4 separate regions of the Homo sapiens genome follow, and all the other regions are linked to region 1. The links come from fine-mapping of genetic effects on plasma protein levels. A gene starts in region 1. Each other region holds a variant in brackets. All regions are shown on one strand. Distances are from middle to middle.

What was found. PIP is the posterior inclusion probability: the model's chance that the variant is causal. The UK Biobank Pharma Proteomics Project read protein levels with antibody pairs (Olink). The fine-mapping took linkage between variants from a reference panel, not from the people measured, so its PIPs are less certain.
Region 2: its variant is fine-mapped to the plasma level of the IGFBP7 protein (UK Biobank, PIP above 0.99).
Region 3: its variant is fine-mapped to the plasma level of the IGFBP7 protein (UK Biobank, PIP above 0.99).
Region 4: its variant is fine-mapped to the plasma level of the IGFBP7 protein (UK Biobank, PIP above 0.99).

Annotation. Positions count from the first base shown.
Region 1 is chr4:57,107,457-57,113,065 of GRCh38, forward strand. IGFBP7 (insulin like growth factor binding protein 7) reads right to left here and starts at 2,929. Exons shown (of 5, transcript NM_001553.3): 1 at 2,421-2,929. The coding sequence starts at 2,895. IGFBP7-AS1 (IGFBP7 antisense RNA 1) reads left to right here and starts at 2,306. Exons shown (of 5, transcript NR_034081.1): 1 at 2,306-2,514. RefSeq lists a silencer at 2,998-3,067.
Region 2 is chr4:57,046,251-57,051,859 of GRCh38, forward strand. The region is part of intron 1 of IGFBP7 (insulin like growth factor binding protein 7); the gene reads right to left. Among named protein-coding and RNA genes, the nearest start is that of IGFBP7-AS1, 61 kb to the right of the region's middle. The variant A/T (reference allele first, on the strand shown) is at 2,461.
Region 3 is chr4:57,080,954-57,086,562 of GRCh38, forward strand. The region is part of intron 1 of IGFBP7 (insulin like growth factor binding protein 7); the gene reads right to left. Among named protein-coding and RNA genes, the nearest start is that of IGFBP7-AS1, 26 kb to the right of the region's middle. The variant G/A (reference allele first, on the strand shown) is at 2,398.
Region 4 is chr4:57,141,795-57,147,403 of GRCh38, forward strand. The region is part of intron 1 of IGFBP7-AS1 (IGFBP7 antisense RNA 1); the gene reads left to right. Among named protein-coding and RNA genes, the nearest start is that of IGFBP7, 34 kb to the left of the region's middle. The variant G/A (reference allele first, on the strand shown) is at 2,856.

The DNA of each region.
Region 1 (5,609 bases):
TAAATGGCACTCTGTCCAGTTTGCTTCTATGATTGTCAAAACCCATCCAGGTGTCAGAAGAAATATTTAGGGGATGTGATAGGGATCAGTCTATTGTCTCTGCTGTGGAAAGTTTCTGCTGTGGGAAAGGCTTCCCATTCTCTTCTGCTCTCTTTGGCATTCTCCTATAAATGGTCTCTGCCATTTAGAACTCATCTCTCTCAATTTAGGATGAGAAGAAATGGCTAATTTAAGTCAAGGTTTCCAGTTTTAGATGCTGTTTTCTCTAACATTTCCCCAAATATAAAGAAAAGCCGGGCCGGAACCCTCAAAGGGTTTGCAGTCTGGAGAGGTACTGAGCTGGGTGTACATGGTAATGAGGTTATGAAACTGGTTCTATATGACTGTCAGTCTCAATATTTTATAATCAGACTGTGTGAGTGTTTGGTGATGTAAGTAGCAGGTGAGAAAAAGGAATATTAAGTATAAACTAGAAATTGACAACACTTGAACAATCACCAAGCTAACCTTCTGCTCTGATAAGGCAAGTATCTGCCATTTTGAAAAAACTATAAAGTTCCCCATTGTAATGTTTATAAGAAAATCTCAATATTTGGAATAAATTCTTAAATAACGCACATTTATCTTTTCATGATGTGACCGACAAATGAGATCCAAAGTAACAAATAACTGTTTCTATTGTAAACATATGCAGATTATTTTGGGTTGCAATTTTCTAAGTTTAAGGTGATGATACTATAAATAGTTACTAGTGAGTTACACAATTTAAGGCTTTCAATAGTGAACTCTGAAATTGATGACATACAACCTATTAGTTTGTGGACTTCTGGGAAAAGCTCTAAAGAAAGAATTTGGAAATTCTGGAGAAAGTCTGAACTGTGTTAAAGAAGCAACAGCTTCTGTAACCTCAGAACTGCCTCCTCTCCCTTTTCTACCTTGGCTAAGATCAGGAGCTGCCAACATTGAATGTCTGACTTTCCCTTGAAAATACTGCCAATGGAAAATGTTATTTCAGGCATTAGAGTTAAAATTTCTATGTGTGTGTGTATGTGCGTGTATTTGCAAGTCCAGACTTTATTTTCTTCTTTCTTTCTTTTTTTTTTGAGATGGGGTCTCTGTCTGTCACCCAGGCTGGAGTGCTGTCATGTGATCTCGGCTCACTGCAACCTCCGCCTCCCAGATTCAAGCGATTCTCCTGCCTCAGCCTCCTGAGTAGCTGTGATTACAGGCATGCACCACCATGCCCAGCTAATGTATATATATATATTTTTTATTAGAGATGGGGTTTCACCGTGTTGGTCAGGCTGATCTCGAACTCCTGACCTCGTGATCTGCCCATCTTGGCCTCCCAAAGTGCTGGGATTACAGACGTGAGCCAACCCACCCGGCCTATTTCCTTATTTCATTTACAGCAAGCTTGGACTTGTTTGGAATAAAATAAACAATCAAACATAATCTCAAAGACATTTCTGCTGAACAGTGTATCCTGGGGACAAATTATGCAAAACAATACAAATCAAAGAAATAGGAAGGAAAAACAAAATGGTCAGAAGGTTGACAACAAAGTGCATCACAAAAACAGTCTTCAAAGAGTTTGTATTTTATTTTTGCCCACAAATAATTAGCTAGTTAGATTACTGTTTGAGAACCTATAATTTTTAGAAAGTGGACTATTTTCTTCAATACTAAGAAATCAGGGCTGTGCACGGTGGTTTATGCCTGTAATCCCAGCAGGCCGGGATTACTTGAGCTCAGGAGTTCGAGACCAGCCTAGGCAACATAGTGAAACTCCGTCGCTATAAAACAAAACAAAACAAAACAAAAAACCAAAAATTGGCCAGGCGTGGTGGCACAGGCTTATAGTCCCAGCTACTTGGGAGGCTGAGGCAGGAGGATCGCTTGAGGCAGAGGTTGCAGTGGGCCAAGATCGTGCCACTGCCCTCCACCCTGGGCGACAGAGCAAGATCCTATCTTTTAAAAAAAAAAGTCTGTCTGGAAGTCCTTACTTTATATTTAATTGTCAAACTCCTTTCCCCCATCTCTTGACTTCACCTCTCTCTACATCCCCAAGCCAAGAATGATGAGAAATGGACAGATGTTAGCACGAGTTGGGTGCGCTTTGGGCATGGGGAAGTCTGAGGTCTCGGAAAATCTTTTCTACATATACACCCGGCCCTCACTTTCTGGACGCACGCAGCAAACTCTCAAAATAAAACCACCAAAAAGGAGAAGGGGGGGCGTCGCCCACCGCTCCTGGCATTCCGCGGCTGCCAACTCTTTCCCTCCCATCTGGCTCCTGGGATGCCCGCGGGGGAATCGCAGTGAGCAGCGCGGGGCGAGGCCGCCGCGGACGCCCCGTCGGATGTGCCCTTCGCTGGGCCGAGCGGCGCAGGGTTGGAGAGGGAAGCGCTCGTGCCCACCTTGCTCGCAGGTGCCCTTGCTGACCTGGGTGATGGCCTTCTCCCCGCGGCTCTCGGCCCTCTGGCTGGCGGCGCGCAGCTGGCAGCCGCTCGGGTAGGTGGTGCCGTCGCTGCCGCACACCGGGTAGCGGCTCTTGCACACGCACACGCCGCTTACACCCGGACCGCCGGCTGCTGCCCCGGCTTTACCCTTCCGCCTCTTGCGGCTCTTCACGCACTCCATGCCCGGCGCGCAGTACCCCCTGCCGGCGCCGCCACCCCCGCACGGCTCGCCCTCGCCGCGGGCGCACATAGGGCAGCAGCCGCACGCGTCGCGGGTCTCGCCCAGCAGGCAGCCCAGCGGGGGCAGGGGCGGGCAGGAGGCCGGCTCGCAGGGGCCGCAGGTGTCCGAAGAGGAGGAAGAGGAGAGGGGCAGGAGCAGGAGCAGCAGCCCAGCGGCGCCGAGGAGCAGGGCGCGCAGCGACGGCCGCTCCATGGCGGGGTGCGGTGGCAGCGGCAAGGGCGCGAGTGAGCCGTGTCGGGCCGGCCGGCGCCTTAAACCCGCCGCCCCGCCCGGCCTGTCCGCGGGAACCACACCCCGGGGCGGTGAGAGCACGGGGGCCCCGCCCGTGCCGCCCTCCCGGCCCCGCGGGGCCTGCGCGCGCGCTCCTGCTGGCGTCGGGGGGTGAGCGGGCACCCGGCGTGACCGGCCCATGGGCGCTCGGTCTCACGCCCGCTTCGCAGAGCTCACCCCGCCAGCTCCTGCTCGGTCCCCAGTCCCCTGCCCCGAGCCCTCAGGGATCGCACCGCAGTGCGAGCGGCTCTTCCACCCTCTGGTTTCTCCCCGTTTCCGGTCAATATATTTAAACTTCTTAACAACCACGGCTTCGAGACGATCCAGGGTTTCATCTATTAAATCCTCCGTGGGCCTGAGACACCTGAGTGCTCATTACTCTGTGGTTTGGGAAGCTCTCTTAAGAACAAGCTGTTAAAAACCCCCACTTGTGGACTGTGTCCCCGCTGGCCACAGGCCTGCTGTGGTCTTGGGTGTCAAGCACTAAAAGGACAAACCGTTGCCAACCACTTCCCTTTCTGGAACCTCTTAACTGCCTGCACCTCCCTCCCCGCTTTGTCTCCCAGTGGCATTCAACAAGACTCTGTGCTTTTTTTGTGCTGAGCCGTTTTCAGTGAGTACTGGAATCCGTGTGAGAGCTGTGCCCTTGTTTTGAGTTCTTGCTGAACTGCTCGCCCTCCAGCAAGCCTCTCGGGAGAACAGAGCGCAGCTGAGAGGAGCAGGGGTCCCAGCTCCTTCCTCGTTGGAGCTGCCACGGAGGCACCTAAAGCGCCCCCAGTCTTCACCAGCATTCCAGGAGGTTTTTGATATAAACGGTGGACTCTTCCTCAGTCTTTCTGCGAAGTGCTCTGCAAACTCAACTTGAAAGCCTCTCTTCCCAGGAACACTGGCCTCTCCAATGCAGACATGGAAGTTGCTTTCACTTTTTAACTGAATGTGTAACATTGCAGCGTGCATTATTCTGCATGTCACATTGTGGTTCTTTTGTGTTCTTTTTTCTTAGCATAAATCCAGGGATTTACAGGGTTGCTGACTGAAAGCCAGCAGTTCAGTTCATAATCCCATTAGCAGTGTAAAGAACTCATTCTCAACAGACTCTTACAAGGATAATTATTGCAAATTTTTTGAAAATTAAATGACCACAAAATCGGGGGGTGGAGAGTGGGGAAACATCCTCCAATCCAGAAAAACCTAGCACTGCTTTTTGGCCTCTCCTTAGTGTATTATAGACAAGTGGAGCATTTTTTTTCCCCTCAAAGGTCATATGTTGACCTGACAGTTGTTTAAAAAACAATGAAAAATCTTTACAGCAGAGTTTCCCTAAATATTTTTGTCTTTGTTCCATCCTAAGAGATGCAGTTTACATGACCCATTTGTTTTCTTGAAAAGGAAACAAATGCAGAGTGCACTCTATTTCCTATTGTATTTAATTTCTTTCTTTCTTTCTTTTCTTTTCTTTCTTTTTCTTTTTTTTATTTTTTTGAGATGAAGTCTCCCTGTGTCGCCTAGTCTGGAGTGCAGTGGTGAGATTTTGGCTCACTGCAACCTCTGCCTCCCAGCTTCAAACAATCCTTCTGCCTCAGCCTCCCGAGTAGCTGGTATTACAGGCATGCACCAACATGCCCGGCTAATTTTTGTATTTTTACTAGAGACAGGGTTTCACCATGTTGCCCAGGCTGGTCTCAAACTCCTGACCTCAAGTGATCCACCTGCCTCGGCCTCCGAAAGTGTTGGGATTACAGGTGTGAGCCACTATGCCCGGCCCTGATTTCCTTTTTATTAATTCACTGGTCAAGAGCCACTAAATTGGTTCCATGATCTAGTATGACGATCTGTCATAGTTTTAGATTCTCCAGAAGCTTTCTCTGAGACAAGGATTCCAGTGCAAGTAGGTCACCTGAGAAGCCACATCAGGACACAGAGATTGAGGGTTGGGGCAGGCAGGTGAGCAAGCAGGAAGGGAAGACAGCCAATAAAGGTGCTTATCTCCGCAGCCAGAAGAAGCCCTCAGGCTCTACAAACTGTGTGTGTGTGTGTGTGTGTGTGTGTGTGTGTGTGTGTGTTTGCGTGTGTAGGGCATGTGGGTGGGCAGTGGCAGCAGCTGTACACTAAGAGCTGTCACCCACAGTGTGTGGAGGTCCTGCATCAGAGCCAACAGTGAGAATGCAAGCATGTGCTACAGCGGAGTCCCTTTGAGGAACCTCCTCACTGCCCAGCAAGCAAAGAAAACAAGCAAGTTTCTGGTCACTGAAAGGGGAACCCGAGCTCTGTGATAGTGCCAGTCGAGCTGGAGGACCTGAAAACAAGAAGAGATGTTAGAAAAAAGGCAGGTGAATGGAGCCTTTAAAGAGCAAGTTGACAACTCCACCCTTCCAATAACAGATATATTGTCACCTGTTCAGCTTCAGTTTTAGTGAGGTGGAGAGGCTGGATGTGGAGATGGAGATATTTTTACTTCTTCCTGTTTAATTGGTGCCTTTTGTTTCTTTTTCTTGCTTAATTGCCCTGGTTAGAACCTCCAGTATAATGTTGAATAGAAGAGGTGAGTGGACACCCTTGTCCCAGTCCTCACCTTAGAGGGAAAGTTGTTAGTTTTTCACCACTAAGTATGAAGTTAGCTGTGGGCATTTCATAGA
Region 2 (5,609 bases), 61 kb before region 1:
ATTCCATTGATCAGCAATTTCACTGCCAACAATCATCTTGAATTGCAGGTCTGTCCTGCAATTCAATCCCTGACAGTTCTGTTCTACCTCAGGAGAGCACTGTACTCAATGACTCTGTACCAAATAACTTCTAACTCTTTCCACTCTACCTTTCTTCCAAGAAGGGCAAGGCAGATCGAGAATTTATTTCTGTTTTTAAGAATAAAGAAATTTTTAGGTCACTCTGAGCTAATTTTCTCATACAGAAAGCTCAAAATCAGTCCTCAAGGCCAGGTCAAGGGTAATAACAACATTATCATCTAACTCATACTCAGTGTTTGGATTCCGTTTAAAACAGGTCACAGAATTCTTAAATGTATAGGGACAAACATCAGGATAGGTCCAATTATTTATTTATCCTTGCCCTTGTTCCATTAAGAGCTCCAGACTGCTCAAACATCTGTCTAGCAAACATCCTGTTCATAGAATAAATGACTGTGCGCTGCCTCCCTCTGCCTTGTACCCACCCTCGGCAACTCCAGAAAGCAACCAAGTCATCTGCAGTGCTGCCTGATGTAAAGAGATGTCCACCCAAGGTGGACTACCTACATTTTTCTATCCAGATGACTGTACCCAAACCAGGCTACCCCACTTTCCTTTTACCTTACACACTCAATTAATTCTCATTCAATCTCTTTAGATCCTTCTCAACCCTCTAAATTCATTTTCTTGCCTTCCCTATTTTTTATAACTCTCGCTCAGTAACTTTAGAGTGTCTCTTCCTTTTGATCATTCCTTAGAGGGTCTCTTCTTTTTGAACATTCCTTGAAGGGAAAGAAGGGAGAGAGGATGATATGGTTTGACTGTGTCCCCACCCAAATCTCAAATTGTAGCTCCCATAATTCCCATGTGTCATGGGTTGGGGGGTACGCGGTGGAAGGTAATTGAATCATGGGGACAGGTTTTTCCTGTGCTGTTCTCGTAATAGCGACTAAGTCTCATGAGATCTGATGGTTTCATAAAGGGCAGTTCCCCTGCACATGCTGTCCTGCCTGCTGCCATGTAAGATGTGACTTTGCTCCTCCTTCGCCTTCCACCATGATTGTGAGGCCTCCCCAGCCTCATGGAGCTGTGAGTCCATTAACCATCTTTTTCTTATAAGTTACTCAGTCTCGGGTATGTATTTATTAGCAGCATAAGAACAGTCTAATACAGAGGAGGTGAAGGAGAAGGAGAAGAAAGAAAAAATGAAGAAAGATAGCCAGATCCTGAAGGAAGTTATAGCAAGGAAGAAGAAAGTTCTAACCTTGGAAGAAAACAAAAATTCACTACTATGAAATACATCCTTGGAACAAAATTACATTTGTACTCCATAAGTTTATGCAAATAAAAAATAAACATTAAAAATAAAGTAAATTAAAATTCAATTTAATGAATCATATCACCTTAAAAGTACTTAGAAGTCTCCTGCAGAATCTCCACCTAAGTCTGCATACTCCTCCTTTGCTACATTTTTTCTTTTTAGAGACTGGGTCTTCTCTGTCACTCAGGCTGGAGCACAGTGGTGCGAACATGGCTCACTGCAGCCTCAATCTCCTGGGCCCAAACAATCCTCCCACCTCAGCTTCCCAAATAGCTAGGACTGCAGGTGTGTGCCACCACGCCTGGCTAAATTTTGTATTTTTTTAGATATGGGGTCTTGCCATGTTGGCCAGGCTGGTCTTGAACTCCTGAGCTCAGGCAACCTGCCTGCCTCGGCCTCTCAAAGTGCTGGGATTATAGGTGTAAGTCACCATGCCTGGCTTCTCCTTTGCCCCCCTCCGCCCCCCTTTTTTTTTTTGAGACGGAGTCTTGCTCTGTCGCCCAGTGTGGAGTGCAGTGGTGCCATCTCGGCTCACTGCAAGCTCCACATCCTGGGCTCACGCCATTCTCCTGCCTCAGCCTCCCAAGTAGCTGGGACTACAGGCATCCACCACCACTCCCGGCTAACTTTTTGTATTTTTAGTAGAGACGGGGTGACCGTGTTACCCAGGATGGTCTCGATCTCCTGACCTCGTGATCCACCTGCCTCGGCCTCCCAAAGTACTGGGATTACAGGAGTGAGCAACAGCACCCGGCCTCCTTTGCCACTTTTAATTAAGTTCTAGACAAAGGACTCACAGACTACCAGATTATTTTAAGAATATTTGATTATAATCTAGAAATAGGTATGTTCTGAAAAAGTACTACTGATACAGAAAAGGTAGTTTTATAGATGGATGGATTTAAATTTGGAGTATTATGAGTTGGTTCAGAAGAATTTAAGAAAGGCAGTTCTCACAAAACACACAAATATCATGAGGAAAAGACTTTGACATGAAATTAATTTTGAATTTGACCAGCAATTCATTCCAGCTGATTTTATATAAAGTCTTGGTAGTGAGGACAGAGTTAAAATGTGTTATCCTATAAAAAGCACAGCAGGAACAATATTGAAGAAGT[A/T]TGTGAACAATTTCCTAGTCCCTTACAGAGCACAAAGCACTCCCCAGCCATGACCTGAGATGTCCTCATGATGTTACTATTTAAAAAAAAGAGACAAAAGCATTCTTGGGGACAGAACACTTGGCTCTGAATCCTTGTCTACAATTTATAGCCAAAAGACCTTGGACAAGCCACTTAACCACTTTTACAAGATGAAGAAACTAGGAAGTGTCTAAGAATATCCTCTTTGGGTTTGGAAGTAAGTGAACCTATCATGAATGTGTCCTAGAGCTGGGACATAGATGTCAAAGATGCTTTGACATTTATGAAGTTCTGAAGTCTCACTGTCTGGGTCTGGAGCTCTCATTCTCTGCAAATCAGTTCAATGCATTTCCTCACCTACCTAAACACGATGTATGTGACTCATAACATGGTTCACTTCCTCAGGGATTAAAAAAATAGAGCTTATAAAGGTATCACCCTTTACCCAGTTAGCCAATTTTTTTTTCATCTGAAAGAGCTGTGTAGAAGATATTAGGAGAAGTCATGTTTGAAAGCTAAATATACTTGAATTAAGCCTGGGAAATGGTCAAAAGTCAAATTACCCCCAATAATCATTTCTGTCCTCCAATATCATATTGTACTATATATTTTTTGCTTCGTTGCTTTCTCATTTGCCCATCATCTCTTCCATTTTTACCAATTCACTCTTCTATGTCATTTCTACCCAAACTCACTGTCTGCTCCCAGCAGTCCTGCTCACCCACCATTACATGTTCATTACCCCTTCCAGCACCTTTGCTTATGCTGATGCCCTTACCTACTTGGAATATCTTCCCTCCTCTTATTTCTTATCACACTTTATTTGACATTCTAAGACTGAAGTTTCATTTCTCTTTGACATTTTTTGCGGCCTGACAGCTTCAGGCTCCCCCTTATTTCTTCTCTAAAATCCTGTTGGTTTCGGTAAGTTCCACAGAGTGTAGTGCATCACTGTTTTCTAATGCTTTCCTTAGCTGGCCTAATTGAGGATGCCAGCATCCTGTCGGAATCAGAACAGAACCAGGAACTACGGAATCAAAAGATCTTCATGTTCATTGGAAGGAGACAGAGCTCAGGCTGTGTGAAGTGGGTATAGGGCAGCAGTAACTTCAGAACAACATAACATGATTAGCCAAACAGAAGTGAAAAGATAGCCACTGTCTTGAAAATGCACCAGTGTACACATGGCCAAAAGCGTACACCTCACCAAAGTGGTGTTATAACTATCTTATTTATCAGCTGGCAGATTATTAATCATGATTTTCTTTAATCTTTCACTTGACTTTCTCTTGCCATAAGCAGTGTTTCTTGGCTACTAACCACTCACCAACCAATTAGTATATGACCAGGAGATGCAAATTAATTTGAATATACATCACTTGAAGCAAATCCCACCGAGATGGGTAGGTCTGCTGGAAGAAAATGATTATCAATTATCCTCACACCAAAATCATGCTGGGTTATACTATTCACATTATGGTTCTCACTGAACATTTATTTTATTTTTATTTAAGTTTTTTTTTTTTTTTTTGAGACAGAGTTTCGCTCTTTCGCTCAGGCAGGAGTGAAGTTGTGCAATCTCGGCTCACTGCAACCTCTGCCCTGTGGGTTCAAGCGATTCTCCTGCCTCATCCTCCTGAGTAGCTGGGATTACAGGCAGCCATCACCATGCCCGGCTGATTTTTGTATTTTTAGTAGAGATGGGGTTTCACCATGTTGGCCAGGCTGGTCTCGAACTCCTGACCTCAGGTGATCCACCTGCCTCAGCCTCCCAAAGAGCTAGGATTAAAGGCATAAGCCACTGCACCTGGCTTTTCAAAAGTTTTTATAGACAGAGTCTTGCTCTGTCACTCAGGCAGGAGTGCAATGGTGCTACGATCATAGCTCACTGCAGACTCCAAACTCCTAGTCTCATGGGTCCTTCTGCCTCAGCCTCCCAAGGAGCTAGGACTACAGGCAAGTGCAACCATGCCCGGCTAATTAAAAAAGAATTTTTTTTTTTTTTTTGTAGAGACAGGGTCTTGCTTTGTTGCCCAGGCTGGTCTCGAACCCTTGGCTTCAAGTGATCCTCCCTCCTCGGCCTCTCAAAGTGCTGGGGTTACAGGCATGAGCCACTGTTCATGGCCTCTTGCTGAGTACATGCTAACATGGCTAAGACATTTGAGTATGGGGACTTCTCCGAGTTATGATAGATTTGCAAACAACACTCACCTTGACTCTTGATGCTGGGTCCTGAAAATAGTGTGTGCATTAATACCAAATAAGGGGAAAATCAGGGTTTAAGAAGGACCTCAGATACCACATATGGAGATAGAGAGTTCAGACAACTTGGCAAAAATCCCTAGATTGAGATGAGATTCTGATAACACATTAAAGGGAACAGGAGCACACAAAAGTACAAAACGGGAAAAGAATAGTAGGAAGGCACTATGGCCAAGATGGGGAAGGGGATGAAACAAGTGGAAGCTTCCTGATATTAAATAAGGGGAAGCAGTAACTGTATGGCTAATTAAAGAGCAGAGCCATCTGCCAAGGCAAGTCATTTAGGGAACTTCCAGAGGCGGGATGATGTAGCAGCTGAACCCTGGTATGGGAATCTAGCACACGGTCTCAGGGGTACTGGCTGAGGACAGCAGGGGAGGAGAAGAAAGTACAACAGCTTAAGCAGCATAGGCCAGATTTAATCTCAGGCTTTTAGTTTAAGGCAAATTCATCTAGTTATGGAAGCTACTGTTAGTCATTTCCACTTTAGTGTGAATGAAGAACCAATAGTTTATAATAATGGGACCCTGCCAAACACTGTTTAGGGCAAAAGTGTGTAAGAACTGCTTCCTCTTCTCTAAATATAATCTGTTGGGGTGGTGTTGGGGAGGCTTAGCGCATTAAGAGTAAGAACAAAATGCTGGGAGGTAATAGACTATAGTGACTTTGGAGCGTGGACTTGGAATCAGGAATTCTGCTCTACCACTCCTGAGTTATGCAACATTGCACAAGTTATTTCACTTCCCCTGCTTTATTCATCTGTGAAATGGAATGATAGTATCCCAGTCATTAGACCATCAAAAGGATCAAACAAGATACAGCCATTAGCACAGTACCTGGCATGGGGTAAACATTCAGTAAGTATG
Region 3 (5,609 bases), 27 kb before region 1:
CCTTGGCCCTGGCCAATGTTCTCAGAATGTCTCCGGTGGGCTGAGGATGCTGACAGATGCCATCTGGTCCTTCTCACCTTTCCTTTCCTGGAAGTCAACACCCATTTCCTCTATGGAGCTTCCCCCTTTTGTCAGCAGGGGAAGTGAAGATCCCAACCTGGGTACTTAAAATGGGCCTTGAGTGATACTTTCTGGAACATTCTTAGCTTCAGGGCAGGGCCCAGGGAAAGTGCCTCTAATGATCCTAATGTTAGTTTTAAACTTGCTTGGTAATCACTTTGGAATTGCCCATTTTTTTTTCACAGAGCTTTCTGGCCCATACTCAGCTATGGGTTCTAAGTCTGAAAGCCTGTTAGGGCATTAAAAATGACAGCTGTTAAAATGCTTAAGAATTATGAAGGGAGGAAGCTAATGCTTAGATTTACCCCCCACCAGCCCCTCCCACTCACACCATAGACCACATATTTTCCCCTCAGAAAGGAAAACATTCCTGACCTCTGTTTAAATGTTTATCAGAAGTTGTCTGGACTTGTAAATTCTCTGAAGTCACACTCTTTATTAGTCACATCCTTCTTGGTGTGTGGTGTGACCCTTCTATCAGGGCAGGGGGAATGTCGGGCCTTGTGCAGAAATCATTTGGTGCGGGAAACATCAACCACCACCCAGAGATTTTCATGTAGCCCAAACACAAGCAGAAGCTGAGCAAGGACCTTGAGCTTCCCCATGGTGGCAGGGCTTCCGTTTTGAATATGTGTGAAAAAAATTCCTTAGTTCTGAGTCCGCTGGGGCCTTGATTTTAAAACAAAGCCCCAGCATGAAGTCTGGCTCCAGAGAAAGAAAAGTGGAAGTTCTAGGTCCTCAGCACAAAATAAAGGACTATTCAGAGTTCTATTCTGGCTCCAAAGTGCTGCTGCTTTGGGTTTGCAATTGAATCACCCTGCCTTCCTGGTCCTTTGACGTTGATAACTTAGCTTCTACTTGGGATTCTGTGTAAACAGTTTGCATCCAACAGACTTTGGCTTACCAGGTGAAAGGCACTGTTGTAGAACCGACTCGGGGATGCTGGTGTGTGAGAAAGAAAGGTACTACTAGAGCAACAGAAAATGCACTGATTAGCAAGTAGGGGAAGTGGGTTTTGGTACCATTTCTCCCCACATTTTACTTAGTCCTCAGTTTTTTCATCTGTAAAATGGAAAGGTTGAAGCAATGATCTAGGAGGTCCTTTGGGGTCAAGAATCCTCTTTGTCTCTACATCAGAAGTGGAGGAACAGGTGTGAGTTTCAGCCCAAGGAATATCAGTTATAATAAGAAAGACTTTCCTGAGAGAAGGCTGAGTTTACAAAGGATGCTCTGTGATTTTCCTCTTTTGACCAGTGTGGGTCCCAAATCGCGGTCTCAGAGAGCTCTTCTGGGACCTGCGTCTTTGGAGTTGCCATGTTTGAAATCTCTTAGACTAAGATGATACAGGGAAGTGGTTAGGGAAAGGTTAATGATGAACTGAAATATCACCCCAGAATCATTCTAGATCTATGAGTGTATAGTTTTAAATTTGAATCAAGTTTTTGGTAATTAGAAGAAGGAAAGAAAAGAACCTTCGAAATTTAGTTATGAGGAATATCAATGATGTAGTGGTTCAGTATTCTTTTAAAATATTTTGTTGCTATTTAAAAAATGCAAAAGTGCATGCTCACTGTAACAATTCAAATATACAAATATATAAAGAAGCAGCAAGTTGTCTACTTTTACCTCCTGATAATCCTAACCCCCCAACAACTTATATAAACTGTTTATACATATAGTTTTTATTTTTTTAATGAAAATTTCATACCTATTAACATGCAAGCTGCTTTAAATTTTTTTTAAAGTTTTATTTTAAGACACAGGGTTTGTCTATGTTGCCTAGGCTTATCTTGAACTCCTGGCCTCAAGCTTCCTGAGTAGCTGGGTCTACAGGTGTACACCACCACACCTGGCTTAAACTGCCTTTTTTTCAGTGAACAATCCATGTATTATGTATTAGCTTTATTAGTTCAATACACATAAATCAAATTCATTCTTTCCAATAGCTGCAAAATGTCCCCAAACATGGGCATAATTCTTTAAGAATATTCCAGATGTTCCAAATTCTTCTATATACAAACTATGATACAATAAATATTCTTAATACTTATGTCCCTATGCGTTAGCACTTTTGTTTCTGTAGGAGAGGTTTCCAGAAATAAGATTGCTGGGTCAAAGGGTATGAGAATGTTTAATTTTAATAAATACTCCTAGATTACTTTTGAAAAGCTTGTTAGGAATTCTGGTCTTGGCAATAGTGCAGGAAGGTCCCCATTTCCCTGCACATTTCCCAGCAGTGGGAGTGAGAAATTTTCAAAAAATTTGGCTAAGCTGAAC[G/A]GGGAAACATTGTAGGTTATTGTTGTTCTAATTGCATTTCAGGACTTGTTGTGAAGTTGAGCAACTCTTCACATGTTTAATGGCCACTTGCAGTTGTTCCTTTTAATTCACTATTTATTACTTTTCTCTTTTTCCTGTTGCTTTATCGATCAACTTACATGAGCTCTTGTTTACTACAGATATTTAGTTTGCTTATCAAATATTTTGCAAATAACTTCTCCAGGCTATTACTGTCTTCCTGTTTTGTTTATGGTTTTGGTTGCCATACAGCATGCCACAAGGGCAGTGATGCTGGCTGTTTAGTACATTGCTGTGCCCTCAGCAGCAGGAATGGTGCGTGGCACATAGTATGTTCTCAATAAAAACAATTATCTCATGAATGGGTGAATGAATAAGTAATAAATTTGAAATTTTAATGCAGCTAATCTGTTAATCCTTTCTCTTATGGTTTCTGGGTTACCAGAATAGTTCTATTTTATTAGTTTTATTTTTCTTGAAATTAATCCTTTTATCCATCTTGAATAGTTTTTTATTAAGAATTTTTCTTTTCTATTTGGAGTCCTAATCCATCTTAAATTTGTTCTGCATGTGGTATGAAGCAGGGCAAACTGACCCTAAAGTTTGGCCATTACTTTGTGTGAAAAGCATTACATGAAATGCAAATTATTTTTAGAATTTATCTGAAGGTGTCCTATACAGTAAAATACAAATATACCCTACCACTCATTTTATGTGTTGTTAAAATATCTAAAGTTAACTAAAAAATAAAGACTGGATAATGCTTTTCTGACAGCTAATTTTGTTCGCATTTTTGCTTGATTATATATGATTAATTTTGTCTCAATTATCAATGAATGCAGATTATCAGGGAGTATCACAAAATTTAAGTATGTGGCTTATCATCTCTAATGAAGTCACTGAATTGTATACAATTTATTTAATAGGAGCATATGCTGGATTAACAGAATCAATTACTCAAATTTCAGTATTAAAAAAAATTCCTTTAGCCAAAAATGAAGTGCCTTTTCTAAAAATCATGAAGAAAAAACATGGACATGAAATGGTGTGCAATGAATTCAACATTATACAGACTTGAACATTTTGAGAGTAAGTCACATGTTTATGCATTATACTATTCTGATGTCGGCAGTTTAAACATTTTCCAAGATTTCTTTAAGATGCAATCATTCCACCTCCTCCATGAAGCCCTCCTAGGTGGAAGTCATGGCTACTTCCTCTGAACACGTGCAGCAATTCTTGCTTCCACCACTTATAAGGCACTGCCCAAAAATGGCTTGCAAGGAAACCTGAATTGCCTCTATTATTCAATGGCTTCTAGTTTCTGTGGTAAAATCAGGGGCTGTCAAATGATCTGATGATAATGTAATCTTTTCCCTTATAAGTCATTTAATCTTTTTACTCAGATGTTTAAAAAAGGTTTTTTTTTTTTTTTTTTTTGGGACAAGGTCTCACTGTGTTGCCCAGGCTGGATTATAGTCATGTGATCACAGCTCACTGCAACCTCAGACTCCTGGGCTCAGTTTGTCCTACCACCTCAGCCTCCCAAGTAGCTGGAACTACAGGTGTGTGACATCATGCCTGGATAATTTTTTTTAAAAATGGATACAGGGTCTCACTATGTTGCCTGGGCTGGTCTCGAACTCCTGGGATCAAGCGATCCACCCACCTTGGATTCCCAAAGTGCTGGGATTACAGATGTGAGCCACTGCACCTGGCCTAGATCCTTTTTTCTTTTTCTTTAAAGTGCAGTATTGTTTTCACTAGAATATCAATAGGTATTTGTCATTCTAGATCCATATTCTCAGGTATACTGTCTGGTCTTCCAAAATGTAGTTCTACATTTTTCTTGTATTTCAGTGAAGTTTTTTGGAGTTATAATTTTTAGTGTTGGCTTGCTTTCTTGCTTTGGTTTCCTTCTTCAGTGACTCCTGTTATCCGTATGCTAGATCTGCTCTGCATATCTTCAGTGGTTGCTGCTTTTGATCATTCCTCCTTTCTTTTTAATTTAATAATTTTCCTCCTTTTAACCTCCTAGTCTTTTAAGGGATTCTCTATTGTTCTTATTCGCTATTGTGTTTCTTTTGGTTTCATTTCTGAAATAACAACTGAGATCTTCACCACATTTTCGAGTTATTCTAATTTTGGCTTGTTACTCTTTATTTGTATTATTTAAAAAATGTCTTTTAGCTCATGTTATTCAGATAGTCAGTTGTATGTAGTTTTCACCTGTTTGCAGACGTGCTTTCATTGCAGGTAGGGATGTTATTCCCTTTCTCTCTCTCACTCTTCTCTTATATAAAATTTCTTTCTAGTATGGGGTTTGGCCTTAATCTTTCTCTGTGCTTTTTTAAAATGTAAAATTGGTTTTCCACAGCCTTACAAGGAGACATTGTCCAAAATACCTTTTTGCAACTCCTCAGAACTCCATTTTGTGTTGTTTTCATTTAGTGTTAAAAACAGTAACTTGCTTTCTGTGATTTTCTGGGTTTGTTTCCCTCCTTCACTTTTATTTGGTCTTTTGTTTCATTCATCTCTATTGTTTCTGTCCTGCTCAATTTTGATTCTATTCCTAGTAGTTTTTCTTTGGTGAAGGGCCCTGTCCTGGAAGGGAGCTGTATTAGTCCATTTTCACACTGCTGTGAAGACATACCTGAGACTGGGTAATTTATAAAGTAAAGAGGTTTAATGGACTCACAGTTTCACATGGCTTGGGAGGCCTCACAATCATGGTGGAAGGCAAAGGAGGAGCAAAGGTACATCTTACATGGTGTCAGGCAAGAGAGCATGCAGAGGGGAACTGCCCTTTATAAAACCATCAGATCTCGTGAGACTTACTCACTGTCATGAGAACAGCATGGGAAAAACCTGCCTCCATGATTCAATGACCTTCCACCAGGTCTCTCCCATGACACTTGGAGATTATGGAGTTACAATTCAATGTGAGATTTGGGTGGGAACACAGCCAAACCATATCAGGAGCCCCGGCTGGGGGTTTTGAGAGTTCACGGGACCCAGGCTACTCAAGCCCCTTCCACCCTTTGGGTCCCTTGCACTCACCCACTAATGGACTTTCCAGTGAAAACCTGTTGGCTATGTTGAGATTTACCTATTATTGGATCTGTCATCACCTCATTACTGCCCTCTGTGTCTTTCCACCTAGCTGCTGACAGCCTGCAGGCTTGGTGGCATAG
Region 4 (5,609 bases), 34 kb after region 1:
GATAAATTCCCAAGAGTGGGATTGCTAGATCATGTGGTAGTTCTATTTTCAGTTTTTTGAGAAATCTTCATATTATTTTCCATAGTGGTGGGACTAATTTACATTCCCACCAATGATCTACAAATGTTCCCTTTTCTCTGCAGCCTCACCAGCATCTGTTATTCTATGTCTTTTCAGTAAGAGCCATTCTGACTGATGTGAGATGGCATCTCATTGTGGTTTTAATTTGCATTTCTCTGATTATTAGTGATGTTGAGCATTTTTTAATATATCTATTGGCCATTTGTATGTCTTTTTTTGCACAATGTCTATTCATGTTCTTTGCCCACTTTTTAATGGGATTATTATTATTTTACTGTTGAGTTTTTCGAGCTCCTTGTGTATCCTGGATATTAATCCCCTGTCAGATGAATAGTTTGCAAATATTTTCTCCCATTCAACAGGTTGTCCCTTTACTCTGTTGATTGTTTCTTTTGCTGCGCAGAAACTTTTTAGTTTAATATAGACCCATTTGTCTATTTTGTTTCTGTTGCCTGTGCTTTTGAGGTTTTAGCCATAAAATCTTTGCCTTCACCAAAGTCCTGAAGGGTTTCCTCTACGTTTTCTTCAAGTAGCTTTGTAGTTTTGAGTCTTACATTTAAGTCTTTAATCTCTCTTGAGTTGATTTTAAGTTTTTTTTTTAATTTTAAGTTTTGGTAGAGACAGGGTCTCGCTATGCTGCCCAGGCTAGTCTCAAGCTCCTGGGCTCAAGCAATCCTCCTGCCTCAGCCTCTCAAGGTGCTGGGATTACAGGCGTGAGCCACTGTGCCTGGCCTTGAGATGATCGTTGGATAAGATGAGAGATAGAGGTCTAGTTTCATTTTTCTGCATATGGATATTCAATTTTCCCAGAACCATTTATTGAAGAGACTGTCCTTCTCCTAATGTATGTTCTTGGTGCCTTTGTTAAAAACCAGCTGATTGTAAATACATGGATTTATATCTAGGTTATCTATTTTGTTCCATTGTTCTATGTGTCTGTTTTTATACCAATATCTTGCTGTTTTGGTTTCTATAGCCTTGTGATATATTTTGAAGTCAGGTAGTGTAATGCTTCTAGCTATGTTCCTTTTGTTCAGGATTGCTTTGGTTATTTGGGCTCCATATAAATTTCTTTTGGTTCCACATAAATTTTAGGATTATTTTTTCTGTTTTTGTGAAAAATGACTTTGGTATTTTCACAGAGATTGCATTGAATCTGTAGATTGCTTTGGGGAGCATGTTTATTTTAACAATATTAACTTCTAAAATTCATGAGCACCAGGTATCTTTCTATTTGTATCCTCTTCAATTTATCTCACTGGTGTTTTGTGGTTTTCTTTGTAAAGGTCTTTCACCTCCTTGGTTAAATTTATTCCTTGGTATTCTTTTGGTAGCTATGTAAATGAGATTCTTGATTTCCTTCTCAGCTAGATTGTTATTGGTGTATAGAAAGGCTACTGACTTTTATATATTGATTTTGTATCCTGAAACTTTACTGAATTTATTTATCAGATCTAAGAGTTTTTTGTTGGAATCTCTAGGTTTTTCCAGATATCTGATCATGTCATCTGCAAAGGGGGATAATTTGAGTTCCTCTTTACAAATTTGAATGCCCTTAATTTCTTTCTCTTGCTGGACTGCAATGGCTAGGACTTCCAGTACTGTGGTGAACAGGAGTGGTGAAAGCAGGTGATATGGTTTGGCTGTGTTCCCACCCAAATCTCATCTTGAATTGTAGCTCCCATAATCCCCACATGTTGTGGGAGGGACCTGGTGGGAGGTAATTGAACCATGGAGGTGAGTTTTCCCATGCTGTTCTTGTGACAGTAAGTTTCATGAAATCTGATGGTTTTACAAAAGACAGTTCCCCTGCACAACTCTCTTGCCTGCTGCCATGTAAGACACACCTTTGCTCCTCCTTCACCTCCACCATGGTGGTGAGTCCTCCCCAGCCATGTGGAACTGTGAGTCTATTAAACCTCTTTTTCTTTATAAATTACCAAGTCTGGGTAATTTAATATAGCCCCATATTAGTCTTCGTGAGAACAGACTAATACAGTGGGCATCCTTGTCTTGCTTCAGTTTTTAGAGGAAAGGCTTTCAGCTTTTCTCCATTCAGCATGATGTTAGTGGTGGATTTGTCATTTTTGGCCTTTATTATGTTGAGGTATGTTCCTTCCATGCCTAGTTTGTTGAGAGTTTTTATTATGAAGATATTTTAAATGTTATCAAATGCTTTTTCTGCATTGATTGAGATGATCATATGGTTTTTGTCCTTCTTCGATGCTCTACCCTTTCTCCTGTTCTCTAATGATGCACTACAGAAATGATCCTTGGAAGTACAGTCTTTTAAGGTACATTTTAAAGACCTTCTGTGTTTTATTGAAAAAAGGAAATATGCCTTTTTAATTATAATGTTATACATATTCATTAAAAGGATTTAGAAAATACAGATATGATAGAGTCTGTAACATTAAAAAGTATGAATGTGTAAGTAATCACACCTTTTCCCATTCCCTTCCCTGTCAAAGGAAGACAGGATCTAGTGTTCTGCTGAGAAAATGTGAGGTTGCAGAACTGTAAGGACAGAAAGACTGAAATAATTTTTAGTCAAAAGAGCCCAGAGCAATTGGAAGAACAGAACAGACCCCAAAGCAGAGAGCTGGGGTCAGATGGAGAGAAAGAAGGACAAAATTTTGTATGTATCCGCCTAGCTGTGCGCTGTGAAACTGAGAAGAAATATATATATATATATATGATTTTAAAGATGTTTTCACAAGTGTCATGCCATCTAGTAACTCTTCCCACTCTCTTCAAAAGAATTCCATAAAAAT[G/A]TACATTGCTTTTTAATGTTTTCTTTTGGGTTTTGGATTCTTTTGAATGCAAAACTGTATTGTGACTCATCATGAAATACCCAGTTTTATTTGGGTTACAAAAAAAGAAAACATTAAAAATTCATAATTCCATCTTTAGACTCTACTAGGGTTTAAAACATGGTAAAGATAGTATGTATGCATATGTTTATTTATTTTTTTGAGATAGGGTCTCACTCTGTTACCCAGGCTGGAGAGCAGTGTCACGATCTCGGCTCACTGCAATCTCCGCCTCCGGACTCAGGTGATTCTCCCACCTCAGCCTCCTGAGTAGCTGGGACTACAGGTGTGTGCCACTGCACCTGGCTAATTTTTGTATTGTTTGTAGAGATGGGGTTTTACCATATTGCCCAGGCTGGTTTCAAACTTGTGGGCTCAAGTGATCCATCTGCCTCCCTTCCAAAAGGCTGGGATTACAGGCATGAGCCACCCTGCAAGGCCAAGAATTTTTTTTTTTTTTTTTTTTTTTTTTTTTTTTTTTTTTTTTTTAGAACATGGCTCACTGCAGCCTCGACCTCCTGGGTTTAAGCAGTCCTCCCATCTCAGCCTCCCAAGTAGCTGGAACTATAGGCATGCACCACCACATGGGCTAATTAGTGTTTTTTTTTTTTTTTTTTTTTTTTTTTGTGGAGATGGGTTTTCGCTTTATTTCCCAGGTTGCTCTTGAATTTGTGAGCTCAAGAGATCCTCCATCCTTGGCCCCCCAATGTGCTGGGGTTACAGGTGAGAGCCACCATACCTGGTCCATTTATTGTCTTTTATTCCTCTGAGGAGAGCACACACACAGAAAATACATCATGGTCTTTTCAAGCACGTAGAGCTTGCTAGCCACTGGCTTCTTCTCTTGATAATGGCTCTAATGTCATAATTAGCTTGGCCTCTTCTAGAATGTTCCTTTCTGATAAAGGCATTTTGGCTGTAGGAACTTGTGACCAATGCTGTAGGTGCAATCTCAGAGGACTTGAGACATCAAAACCTTTTGTTTCCTCTGTGAGAGAGAATTCTCTTCTGTGTAGAGAATTATTGATCAACCATCTTTAGTTTAAATGATTATGTGTAGCTGCTAGTTCTAAATAATACATGGATTCCCTTCTGTAATTCTCTATACATGCTTTCACCAAAATAAATAAATAAATGATGAAAACTATGGAAGACAAAATCCTACATTATTTTGAAACAACAAAGGCTAAAATAGGGGCAAAACCCCCTTCAAGTCCTTTCAAGAGGGTTGAAAGGAAACTTCCTTTCCTTCTGTTTGGACCTCAGGGGAGATTCTTATCGTTTCTGGAATCCCATGCCTGCTTATGTTTCCCAGATGTTCTTTCAGATAATTAATCCCTCCTCCAATTTATTCCTCCTCTTCTCCCTGCACCCAACAGAAATAGGTTGAAAATTCTTGCACCTTTTTGATAAGAGAGAATGGACATAAAAAGCATCTAATGACTAAAAATCCTCATATAAATGTTGTAGAATCATTTCAATTTTTAATAGAAGTGTACCTGTTAAAAAAGGACTAGAGAATCCACCAAATATCAGAGTCCCTTGGTCTTGCATTCCTTAGTTTCTTACTCTTTTTTCTTTGGTGATCACTGTACCTCCTTCCTTACCCTTTCTCTCTTGTCCATTTCTGGAGAGTTGCTCTTGACTTCCAGGAATTTCTTGGCATTTCTGAAAACCTAGTTCCCCTCGTCCCCTTCTTATCCCCATGGTGTCTGATATTACTTTTAATATCATCTTCAGTTATCTCTGTTGCATGTTGGTTCCATTAATATGTGCTGAATAGCTCCTTTTTGCCAGGCATGTCTCTTGGAACTGAAGATTGATGCAAAGATAAATTGAGATCATGGTCCCTGCCCTTGAAGGTAGGAGAAAGGAAAGCCCCACATTAATTCACTATGCAGAATCTGACTGAGATGTCAACAACCCACACTGTTATACAGATATGACGGCAGGTGGGGGAGCTGGGGAGGACACTTTTGTCTGCATGACTCTAAAGATCTGCCTGTTTCCCCTCCACTGTGCTGTCCTCCCTCAGCTATGGCTGGAAGGCTGAGAAACAAATCCACTACAGTTGGGGAAAAGGAACGACCACATTGTGAGCATCCGCTATGTGCCTGTCACTCTGGATATATCGTTTAAAGGATATAAAGTAGCCATTGAATTAGTGTCTGCACTTTCTACATGGAGGGAGGGTTGAGATGTTTTAATTAGGTGACCCAGATGCATATTTAGAGGCTGTGAGTGAGAACACAGAGGACAGGAAGCATTTATAGGGTGGCGGTTTAGGGTTAAAAAGTTCGTATTTCAAGATACAGCAGGAGGCAAAATGGACAAGGCCAAGGAAGAGTGGAAGTGGAAATACTATGTCTCAGAGAGCAAGGGGTATAGTATTTTTCCTGAGATAGGATTGAAGAAGGGGCAATGGATAAAGAGATACATTCAAAGATGGAGAGAAGAGCATTTGGAGAATCTATCCCCAGCAGGTTTTTACCAAAGCCAGTGGGTCCAATGATGAAGGTTACATTAGATCATTTCAAGGGTTTGGTGTCATAAAACACAAGAGACAAACTGTTTCTATTAGTAGTAGAAATGGGAAGGAGCAAAACAGATACACACTAAGTAGGTGGGATGCCAGCAGTTCAGTATTACCTTTATAATAGTTACATAAAACAAGCCAGGAAAGAAAGTTAGTGAATATGGGCTCTGGGTCATTAT